3 linked regions of the Homo sapiens genome follow. The protein of the gene in region 3 purifies or fractionates together with the protein of the main gene of each other region. This does not show direct contact. Each region holds a gene or a part of one and is shown on either strand. Other genes may lie near its edges.

What was found.
Region 1: the proteins of NAPA (region 3) and BET1 purify together in Homo sapiens (affinity purification with mass spectrometry; 5 studies listed by BioGRID and IntAct, with this or other methods). This does not show direct contact.
Region 2: the proteins of NAPA (region 3) and NAPG purify together in Homo sapiens (affinity purification with mass spectrometry; 5 studies listed by BioGRID and IntAct, with this or other methods). This does not show direct contact.

Annotation. Positions count from the first base shown.
Region 1 is NC_000007.14:94,002,700-94,006,450, forward strand, and holds the start of BET1 (BET1 homolog), read right to left. Parts: upstream 1,657-3,751; 5' UTR 1,518-1,656; coding exon 1,499-1,517; intron 1-1,498. UniProt on the Homo sapiens protein: Required for vesicular transport from the ER to the Golgi complex. Functions as a SNARE involved in the docking process of ER-derived vesicles with the cis-Golgi membrane.
Region 2 is NC_000018.10:10,542,893-10,546,643, reverse strand, and holds part of NAPG (gamma-soluble NSF attachment protein), read right to left. Parts: intron 319-3,751; coding exon 240-318; intron 1-239. UniProt on the Homo sapiens protein: Required for vesicular transport between the endoplasmic reticulum and the Golgi apparatus.
Region 3 is NC_000019.10:47,501,338-47,505,088, forward strand, and holds part of NAPA (alpha-soluble NSF attachment protein), read right to left. Parts: intron 2,166-3,751; coding exon 2,086-2,165; intron 261-2,085; exon of another isoform or gene 120-260; intron 1-119. UniProt on the Homo sapiens protein: Required for vesicular transport between the endoplasmic reticulum and the Golgi apparatus. Together with GNA12 promotes CDH5 localization to plasma membrane.

The sequences.
Region 1 (3,751 bases), on a different chromosome or scaffold from region 3:
AATCCAAACTCTTTGGCCTCGCATGCAAAGATCTCCACAGTGTGATCCCGAATCCCCTACTTCACCCAAACTGGCTTAATCATAATCCCTTACTTCTTTTGAGTTCCTCCTATCTGGAACTCACTTCCCCCACTCTCCATTATTCAAGGTCTACTTCAAATTCCTATGTCTCCACCAAATACACAAAGATCTTCCCCACAAAGTACACAGTGATCTATCTCTGAAATCTCTGAGACCATCCCTTATATGTAGAACTTATCTGGTATTTGGATGTATAGCGACACTTTGTACTACAATTTATCTTTGCACATATTCCTACTCCCCACCTAGACTGGAAGCTTTGGGGATCACAAACAGGGCAACAAACAACTGTATACCTAGAGCTTACTCAAGCACACAATAAATCTTTTTTGGTATTAAGGATGATGAACAAGAAAAACATTTAGACATATAAAGCTAAACTTGCTCAAAATTATTTCTTTTTTTTTTCTCTTCAATTTACCTGGCCCCATTTTCTATGATCTAAGTATTCATAAAAACTTCATTAAAAAAACAAAAAACTTTCTCATACTACAATTTATTGATCAATAAACAAGTCTACGGTTATTGGCAACTTTCACTGACTTTAAATATCTGACACTTTGGGGATTTTTTTTTTCTTTTTTCAATCTTATAATGACTGAGAAAGGTAATATCTTTTTTCAAATGTTTCATTTATTTTCTGAAGTATACTGCACTCTAATTTAGCGGGGTCTTCTTTAAAAAAAAAATCGTGTCCTAAGAGAAAGCTTCAGAACCAGAAAATGCCGTTCTAGTAGCTGTGCGTTACTATAAGGGTCCATTAAAATTCCTTGTGTCTAACTTATTCTTGCTGATGAGCCAGTTTCCTAACCCCAAAGGTAAAGATCAAATGTTAAGTCGCCAAACCTTAACCACGTTCTACTGCCTTAACCGTGGCACAAGGTTCAGATTAAGAAATCGCCTTTGACCCAGAAGTTCCAGTTCCAGGACCTTTAACAATAATGACACATACATTTACCTTTGTAACTCACTGTTACCAGATTAACGACCATTACTAGCGTGCTTTGGGTGCAACCACCCACTCTTCAAATTCCGCTTCTGAAGAAACTAAGATCCAGGGCCAGTAGGGAAACAGAAACCGGAGTCGGGCTTTGGAAAACATAGCAGCGTCCATAACCACGCTCAGTCAATAACACTAAAACACTCGACCACTGAGATGCCACCTGTACACACCCACCCCTAGTCCACTACTTTCTCTAGCCTACCATCCAAACTTGAATCTGACTCAAACTTAAGGAAATTCCAAAGATCTGGGACAAATGGTGTGTTTCCACTCGACATGGACCCCAAAGATCCCCTCTAGACATCCTGTTTTTTGGACCAAATGCCAGGAACATAAGACAGGTTCGATTTCCTCCCGCGCCCCAGCGCTCCCGGTTCTAGGGCCCCGAACTTCGAACCTCAGCCCTCTTCTTACCCAGGCCTGCACGCCTCATCCTGCCAGAGGAGAGAGAGAAAAGGCGGGTGCGGGGCTTTGGGTGAGTAGGAAACAGCTAGGGGCGACCCGGACCGCGTCTTCAGTACCAGGGCCCAGCGAAACACCAACTTCTTCCCCTAAAGCGCCACGACATCAGTGGAGTCTAAACACCGCGCCGGATGATGGCGTCACCACGGCGCTCATTGGAGCCCTGGGAAGAAGGTTGAAAGGCATTCTGGGAAATGTAGTTCACCAACGCATAACGTGTTGCTGAGGGCGTGATGTGAACCCGGTTCCAGGAGCGGACGGGGCGTCCGGAAAAGGGGGCGGCTTCGACTGCGGCTCTGATTCTGGGTCTCTGATCCAACGTTCCCGCTGTTCCGCTCGCAGCCCGCGGGTCGCTGCTTTCAGTTTGTTGACCACCAAGTTTAACCCAGCAGATCTGCTCCTCCCCACCCACAAGAGGATGGTTGGGGTATCTTTCCTGATTTAGCCTCGAACTCCCTCTCACCTCCAGAGACGATTCAGGGAAAGTTAGAGAAAACTTTGTCCAGGTTTCTCAGTTTACAAACAAGTAATCCGACACCCACAGAAGTAACCGATTTGTGCCTTGTAGTATCCAGTAAAGGAAAGAAAACCAGGTTCCTTTGAGTAGGACTCCTGCTCAGATGAGAGCAGACTAGGAAAGGCTGCGGGATCTGGTCAGAGGCACTGAATAGTTAGTTCCCTGTTACTGCATCTGTTGTACTTCTAGAAAGAACCAAGACTTTTAGTTGTTATGGGGACCAAAGGACCCCTAAACGCTCTCCCACTTTTTTTTTTTTAACTTACACAAAGCTTATTGAAATACTGCTTACACAAGGCAGTGTGCCAATTAGGGGTTTAAAACTTGTTGGCGAGTTGGAGGTGTTACTGGTATCGAGGTTAATCCTAGAATTTCATTTTATCTCAGAGGATTTATCGTGAGAATACGATGAAATCGTGGTTTTTGAAGGGAAAACAAAAAAACCTGATACACAGTAGGTGATCAAAATTCACTGGGTGTCTGCGGTTTTGTTGTTGCTGCTGTATATATGGCAGTGGAATCGTCTCCACACTAGAGATTTCCGAATATGTGATCTTTGATCATTTAGCGTTTCCTCATAGTTTCCCAGGACATTATTAACATTGACTATAATACTGGCATAAGTCTCTGCGTTAAGTTGCTTTTGTAAAAAACACATGAAAACAATTTTTAATAAGAGTTATTAACCTGGGAAGGAGGCTTTATCCAATAGTGTTTTGATAGAAAAAAATCATTAAAATAAAACCGCCATTTTCTAAAAGCAATGAAATTAAATAAGCATAATATCAGGGACAATTATTACAAATAAAAGATGGAGATTCAATAAAAGAAATGATAGCTAGGTATCCCTTTATAACTTAAAATCTGTGACAGTCCTTTGGTTAAAAAAATGCATGTTCTATAATTAAAACGTTTAAAAATTGCCTTACAGAAGGCTTGCTGATGGAAATGTAGAAATCGTTATTTTTGAAAATATGGTAATATTTACTAGAACTAATCATTTAGATTACATAAAATATACTGCTTCCTTTACATGGTAGGAAGACATAAGAATGAAATGTAGTTAAAAGGAAAACATATATAATGTACTAAGAATATAACTGAAGTAAGGCAAAGCTAGTTCATATTGAAGTTGTTACCTAAAAAATCCAATTATTGTTTTTAGCTAACGTTGCTAGTATCAAATTAGGATAATGTCATCTGAAAAAAATTTGCACTCAAAGGAAGAGGCAGGAAAAATGAACTCAATGTGCAGAAAAAGAATTATTAAATGTGACCATAGTTGACATTAGCGATCAGAGGGAATCATTTTCACTTTTCTCGTTGTGCTTTTTCCTTTTTAAATTAAAATCCTTAACTTTTCTTACTGATTGAAAGCAAATAAATTTCACAGAGATGAATAGCATTTAGAACCTCTTCTCTATTCTCACAGGATAGTCTCACAGAAAACATCTAATGTTTGTAGGTCTCTAGGAGATAAAGGACTAAAAATTACTTAAAATAATATTAAGTATTCCTTCTAGTAATTACAAAAGCAAGAATAAAAGCAGGAAATGTCTGAATCGAGGTGCAAAATTGGAACTTTTCTTTCTCCTATCTGTCTGCTTCCTGCCTGCCCATTTGTCCTACCTCTTCCTGACCAAATTTCAAGTCCAATCCAAGGGAAAAGAGCATACCAAGCTCTCAAA
Region 2 (3,751 bases), on a different chromosome or scaffold from region 3:
TATTTACTTTTCAGAGTTCAAGGGTGGTTGCTTTTGTATTTTATCCAGTAGTTTAGCTGTAATCAGCAGAGAAACAAGCTGTAGTGGGCTTACTCTATCTTGGTCAAAAATAGAGGCCCATGAAGTATTATTTTACAAAAACATAGAAATACCCATAGAATCCTTTCTTAAGTACTTATTCATACCAGTATAAAAAATCATCTAATGTAATACCAAAAACAAACACTTTCAAAGAATACCTTATAACAAGTTGGATAATTCTCAATTTCCTTATAAATATTTTTTTCTTTCTGAATAGAGAGTGCCGCCTCATCAAACCTAAAACAAAACACAGAAATGTAAAAAAAGCAGGTCTAAATGATCTATAGCAGAGGTCCCCTGTGAAATGTACTTGACATCATAGATTGTAGAGACACCAGGAGGACAGGTATTATTAGCAGCTGCCCCAGGACCCAGGTTTCCACATGCTCTGCTCATCTGGCTTACCTTTCAAATGTCTGACTCCCCACTTTCAGGCTGCACGCTGACAGAAAAAGCAAAAGAACTCAAGGATGGGTTAGGTCAAACGGGGAGTTTTAAGCTTAGTAAGGACTGTCCAATAGCGAGTGTCACGACTTCTTCGTGATACGTACTTGAGACGATCTTCGATTAAATCACCCAAGATTTCTTTCCTCCCGACTGAAAGAACATCCAGACACCCAAGGCACTCGGTGCCTTCCCCCGACTGTGTCCCTCCATCACATACTCCGCTGCTGCCCCAGTGGCCCTAGCAAGCTCTGAGGTGCCTAAAAGGGCAGCAGAGGGGAGGCAAGTTAGAGACCTAAACAAAAGCCTTCCTGCATCTTCAGTCTTCAACATTCATCTTTTCCATTGACCCTCATACATTCTCCTTTTCTTCCATTTTGCCCAATGGCAGAATGAAGACGAAAGCAAGGAAAGGGGTCACCAAAACATTTCCCCCAAACCCTCCAGGCCCTTACCCCTTTCTCATTCCCCCAGCCCTAATTCCATCAAACCCTAATTGAACCTCCCCTCCCTGCAAAGCTGTAGTATACTCCAAATGCCAGGACTCCCTCAGTAGTACAACTTGAGACTGAGTGAAATGTACAGTCTTTAGCCACTGCTCTCATCCCAATAACAGTCCACGGTTATGGGAGAAACTACCAGGGTCTGGGCATTGGGAATACACACAACCAACAGCCAAAAGGGGCAAGAGTCTGTACTATCGGGATTCAAAGGGAGGTAAGTGGTATTGTAAACCAAAGTAAAAATACAAAAATGTTATGCTTGTTATGCTATATGCTCTATTTTTCTGTCTTTTTATTTTTTTTTGAGACGGAGTCTCACTCTGTTGCCCAGGCTGGAGTGCAGTGGCGACATCTCGGCTCACCGCAACCTCTGCCTCCCGGGTTCAAGTGATTCTCTTGCCTCAGCCTCCCGAGTAGCTGGGATTACAGGCGCCCACCACCACGCCCAGCTAATTTCTGTATTTTTAATAGAGATGGGGTTTCGCTATGTTGGCCAGGCTGGTCTCGAACTCCTGACCTCAGGGGATCCACCTGCCTCAGCCCCCCAAAGTGCTGGGATTATAGACGTGAGCCACCGCACCCAGCCTGTATGTTATCTTTTTAAAAATAGTGGCATGTATACACAGACACACACACACACCACACACACAGTGGCTTGGCTTATGCTATTATGGCTACTTACATCATGAGTTAAACTGAATCTTTATGGGATGCACGCTGGCAACTTAGTGCCTTATAAAATGACACTCATAGGAGAAATGCATTCTGAATTTCCACAGGTCAACTTGATAAATTTTTGGAACAAAGTCAATTTATAAGCTGGGTTTGGTAGCAGAATTCTAAGAGTGCTCCCGATTCTTGCCCCTTGTAAACATTTCCTCTATAATCCCCCTTTAAGTGTAGGTGTGACCCTCGGAATATGATGGGCCATCCTGTGATTAGGACACAAATCAGCTGACTTCGAGTGAATCACTGTCTGTGTGGGCCTGACTTAATCAGGTGGGCCCTTCCTTAAGTTAGAGGCCAGAGTACTCCTGATGTCTCGAATTAGCAGCAAACTGCCATGCTGTGAACCACCAATGGGGGCACACGGCCAGGAACTGAAGGCAAACTCAAAGCTGAGAGCAGTTCCTGGCGAACAGGCAACAAGAAAACAGGAATCTCTTCCACACAGCTGCAAGGAAATCAATTCTGCCAACAATCAATGAGCTTGGAAAAGGACCCAAGCCTCCGGTGAGATCAGCCCCCTCCGACACCTTCATTTCGGCCTGGTGAGACCCTAGCTCTGCTACCTAGCTACACTAGGACCTAGCTACACTGTATCCAGACTTCTGGCCTCATGAAACTGTGAGCTAATCAGTGAGTACTGTTTTAAGCTGCTAAGTTTGTAGCAATCTGCTATGCAGAAATAAAAAATTAATGCAAGGCGGACTACAGCTACATGTATCTGTATCATTTATAATTGTGACCCTGAGCTTATAACAGATCCTGTTTTATAAAATAAATTATGGTCAGAATATTCTGTGCCCGTCGTGTCTAGATTATATCATTCTATTAGCAATCTCAGTATTTTAAACTTTTCATATATTTAACTATAAAGGGTGCATTCTTTACGCATAAACTGTTTATTTCCTTGACATAATATTAGCATTTCTATGTGCTAATATATAGTTACCTAACAAAAGAGCCAAGCCCTTACATGAGTTTGTAGTCGAAAAAGTTGATCGACTTTGCTAAAAGGCCATGAAATTAGCATACAAAGCCATCTATTTTTAAATGTATCCAGAAAAGTATTAGTTACTTATTATAATGAAACACAGATGCTTTCAACTTTTCCATCAGGTAATACTTAATATTCCTAACAAAATGACAAGAATTTGGTTTTGCTGAAAAAAGAATAAATTGTTTTTATCTTCCCCAAATGTAACAAAATTGAAACCCCACAGAAGTTATGTGCAAATGGCAGAAAACTGTCACAGAACCTCATTCATCCCCAAGCTTTCAACAGACACCTTCTACACCACAACTCAAACTGTTCCTCTGGCCCCAACTATTTCCTGAACTCCAAAACCTATTTTTAACTACCTACAGAAATGTTTAGTTTATGTGTCATATTCCCAGCTAAGTTTATTATCATCACTGATAAGTTTGTTTCTATATTCCTTATCTCAGTTATTGATGGCACCATGGACAGAACAGTTATGCAAGACAGAAACCCAGTGATTCTCCTTAATAGCACACATCCCACCCCTGAACATATACACACCCAACCCTCCTTGTGTTTAGGATCTAGTGACTGTCTCAGACAACTGGTGAGAAGCAGCTCTTTTCTTTGCTAAGTGAGTCTTCTAGGAGGGATTTGGGTTCACTGAGACCACACACCTTGTCTCAGAGGCATAGACCTTCTCTCAGAGGCACAAGGTCATGATCAACTTGCTGGAAAGGTCTTTTTTTCTTTTCTTTTCTTTTTTTTTTTTTTTGAGATGGGAGTCTCACTGCAACCTGTGCCTCCTGGGTTCAAGCGATTCTCCAGCCTCCCGAGTAGCTGGGATTATAGGTGTGCGTCATCACACCCGGCTACTTTTTGTATTTTTAGTAGAGAAGGAGTTTCACCATTTGGCCAAGGCTAATCTTGAACTTCTGACCTCAGGTGATCTGCCTGCCTCAGCCTCCCAAAGTGTTGTGATTACAGGCATGAGCCACTGCACCCAGCCTGGAAAGGC
Region 3 (3,751 bases):
AACATCTTCCCATCTACTCCCCTTTCCAAGTCCTGTTTCTTTTTCCACAGCTCCCCAAAGCTCTTCCTGATTCTCCCAACTCCTCTGCCTCTGTTCACATTCTGTTCCCTTCACTGCAGATCCCCATGGACAAGGCACTTGCATGAATTGTGAGGCTCATGGAGTTGGGGTCGGACAACACAGAGCCGGCTCCCTCCAGGAGCTGCATGTCCAGAGAGGGAAACAGGATGTGGACAGCAAGAATGAATACATGCAGACCAGTGCCCATGGGCGGAGGGCAGAAGAGACCGTGCCTGAAGCCTCATCCATCCTGTGCTCATCTGCACACGGTCAGCTTCTGTGGGTCCCAAGCCATTCTGCCCACACATCTCCTAACTGACGTTTGGGAGGCAGCAGCATCTCTCCTCCTCCTCGTGCAGCTGACCACCTCCAGCTCAGCTCTGAGGCTTCTCCCCTTCATTCTCCTCCAGCTGAATCTGAGTCAGAGTTTCTAAGCTGGAAGAGGACCAGGAGGCCTGGCCCTATCCTCTTAAGTTTTGAGCAGCAGAAAAGACAAAGCCTTCCGGGTTTTCACTATATGATTTCATTATTTTCAAGAGTTCCAAATTTGAGTATAAAATTACGGCCAGGCGCGGTGGCTCATGCCTGTAATCCCAGCACTTTGGGAGGCCGAGGTGGGCGGATCACGAGATCAGGAGATGGAGACCATCCTGGACAACATGGTAAAACTCTGTCTCTACTAAAAATACAAAAATAAGCTGGGCGTAGTGGCACGTGCCTGTAATCCCAGCTAGTCAAGAGGCTGAGGCAGGAGAATCACTTGAACCAGGGAGGCGGAGGTTGCAGTGAGCCAAGATCGCGCCACTGCACTCCAGCCTGGCAACAGAGCAAGACTGTCTCAAAAAAAAAAAAAAAAAAAAAAAAAAAAAAATTTCAAGAAAAGGGGATATTACCGGGGGGAAATGGCCTAGGGCTTTTCTTTGAAGAGTTTGGGGGCAGAGGTAACAAATTTTAGGGGAAAAGCAACACCTATGTAATTAAAAAATAAGCTTTTTTTCTCTAGAGGAATTTTCTAAGTTTGGGAGCATAAAAATACAAAAAACATTTGGCTTTATTCACAACGTATTTTGTGAAAACTCAGGAATAACTCTTTGAATTTTGGGGAAACCAACAACATTCTCAAAAACGATGATAATCAATTTTATTGTGCACCTCTGCACCCTGCCTCCATGGTCCCACCACCAGGTTCCCTCTCCTCCACAGTCAGAAGTTCCTCCCTGCATTCAAACACTGGGTCTCTTGCCGTATTTCCTTAATTCAATCTTGGTGACATGAAAGATGTATGATGAAATGAGCCTCGAAAGGGCTCAACACACTGGCTTGTTGGACTTCTTGGGCCTGCAGGGAGCTCCAAACAGATCTCCAGCCTCCCTGAGCCCAAGGGGCTCCTCCCCACCCCTCTCCTCTGTGAAGCTATCCTGCCTCACTGGGGCAGGTTAAACACTCAGGCTCTGCAGTCAGAGCCTTGGTTTCTGAATCTTGGTTCTGTCACTTACTAGTTCTGGCATCCTGGGCAAGAGACTAAGCCAAGCCTCAGTTTCCAAATCTGTAAAATAGGGATATTTATAGACTGACCCTTAGGGCTGCTGTGCTAACGCAATTAAATGATGAGCACTTAGGACTCAACAAACAGCAGCCATGATTCACGTTGTTATTGGAATCACCTGAACATCCTCCCCCAGCCTAGAATTTAGACACTGATGGAAGCACTAAGGAAGTTACCAGGAAACCTGAAGTTCTGAATTTAAGGAGGACTCTAAGAGCTCATCAATCCACATGGGTTTATCTAGGTCTAATAATCTATTTATTCCCATCCTCTCTGTCCTTTCACCAAGGCCCCATGACCCAGAGTATAAAGTAACCCAGCAGGCACAAAACAAGAGAGCAGGCCAGTGGCTTTCCGATGCCGGAGAGGGCATACAAAGAGAAAGGGCCCTCAAGGCCAACCTCTCGGGCAGGCCTGTGTGAGTGGAAGCTGAGGGAGGAGGAGAGCACCTTGGAGGAGCTCTAGCGGAGATGACATACCACTCCAGTTTTTGGCCATTTTGAACATGTTTGCTGCTCTGGCGTAGATTTCGCATGCTTCCTCTATTTTGGATGAGCCTCTGGGGAAAAAGGAAAGAAAAAAAGGAGACAATCTAGTCGGCTATCCAGGAGAAAGCAAGCATTCTGCTCCAGTGCCGGGCACAGACGTGCCCCTACCCCTCACCCTTCACCTGTGAAGCCAGCTTCCCCCAGGCCTCTTGAGTCTGTGGCCCCCGCCCCTGCATACAATGGCACACTCACTTCGGGCAGACCAGCTCCCTCCGGGAGTACTGGGGTAGATACTGGGTGCTTGCTGGGGTAGTGGGGCGAAGAGTTCCTGACCCCACCACAACCCCAGGGTCTGACAGCCTCTTCTACTTCCTGCCTGGGATACTAGGGGCCCACTGGGTCCCAGGCGCGCTACAAATCCCCTTTCCCCGGGAGACTGCAAAGCATTCTGGGGGACTAGCCCAGTTTAAGACATCGTGTTGCTTTCGCAGAGGCAGCCTTAATCCTGTGCCTTGCACTCTGTGGTTGCTCAATAAAGACCTTGCAGCCCTGGAGTGTGTCATTACCAGCTCAGGACTGGGCATATATATCACACAGCCATACAAAGAAATGGGAAGCACTATTTTAAAGTGTAGATATAAGATGTTCCCATTTGTGTTTAAAAAAAAAAGAGGGTGGGCTGGGTGTGGTGGTTCATGGCTCCTGTAATCCCAACACTTTGGGAGGCCAAGGTTGGCGGATTGCTTGAGCTCAAGAGTTCGAGACCAGCCTGGGCCACACGGCAAAACCCCAACTCTACAAAAAATACAAAAAATTAGCAGGGTGTGATGGTGCACGCCTGTAGTCCTAGCTACTAGAGAGGCTGATGTGGGAGGATCACTTGAGCCTGGGAGGCAGAGGTTGCAGTAAGCCAAGATCACACCATTGAACTCCAGCCTGGACGACGACAGAGCCAGACCTTGTCTCAAAAAAAAAAAAAAAAAAAAAAAGAGAAAGAGAGTGAAAATAATAGAAACATACATGTTTATATAAACATAGGATATTTCTGGGCAAATACACAAAAACCTAGTAACAGCATTTTTCTCTTAAGGTGAAGCCTGCAGAAGGAGGGCCAGGTGTGGGAGGCAGACTTATTCACTGGACATCCCGTATTTGTACTGTCTGAATTTTTTTTTAACTGTTTGTACATCTTTTCGAGAAAAAAAATATATACATATATACACACACGTGTACATATATACACATGTGTATATATGTGTATGTGTATATATGTGTGTATATATCTATACATTTACACATACACAGACACACACACACACATATTTTTAAGTATTAGGATTTATATTTGGCCCTGTGGTCCAGCAATGAATTACATCTCTAGCAATTTATCCTAAAAAAACTAATCAGAAAAGTTACAAGGATGTTCAGCATAGCATTATTTAAAACAGCAAAACCCCCCAAAAACTTATTGTCCAACAGTAGGGATACACTGGGAGATAGACAGGAATTTGAAAACATAAAGGGTACCCTGTTTGGGCAGCTTCACTCTGGCTTCTTGACCTCCACATGTACATAATGAGCCTCCTCTTGACTTGGGGGACCTCATTAGTACCTCAAACCCGTAAGTCCCACTGCATTCTTCTGCCCTTAATAATAC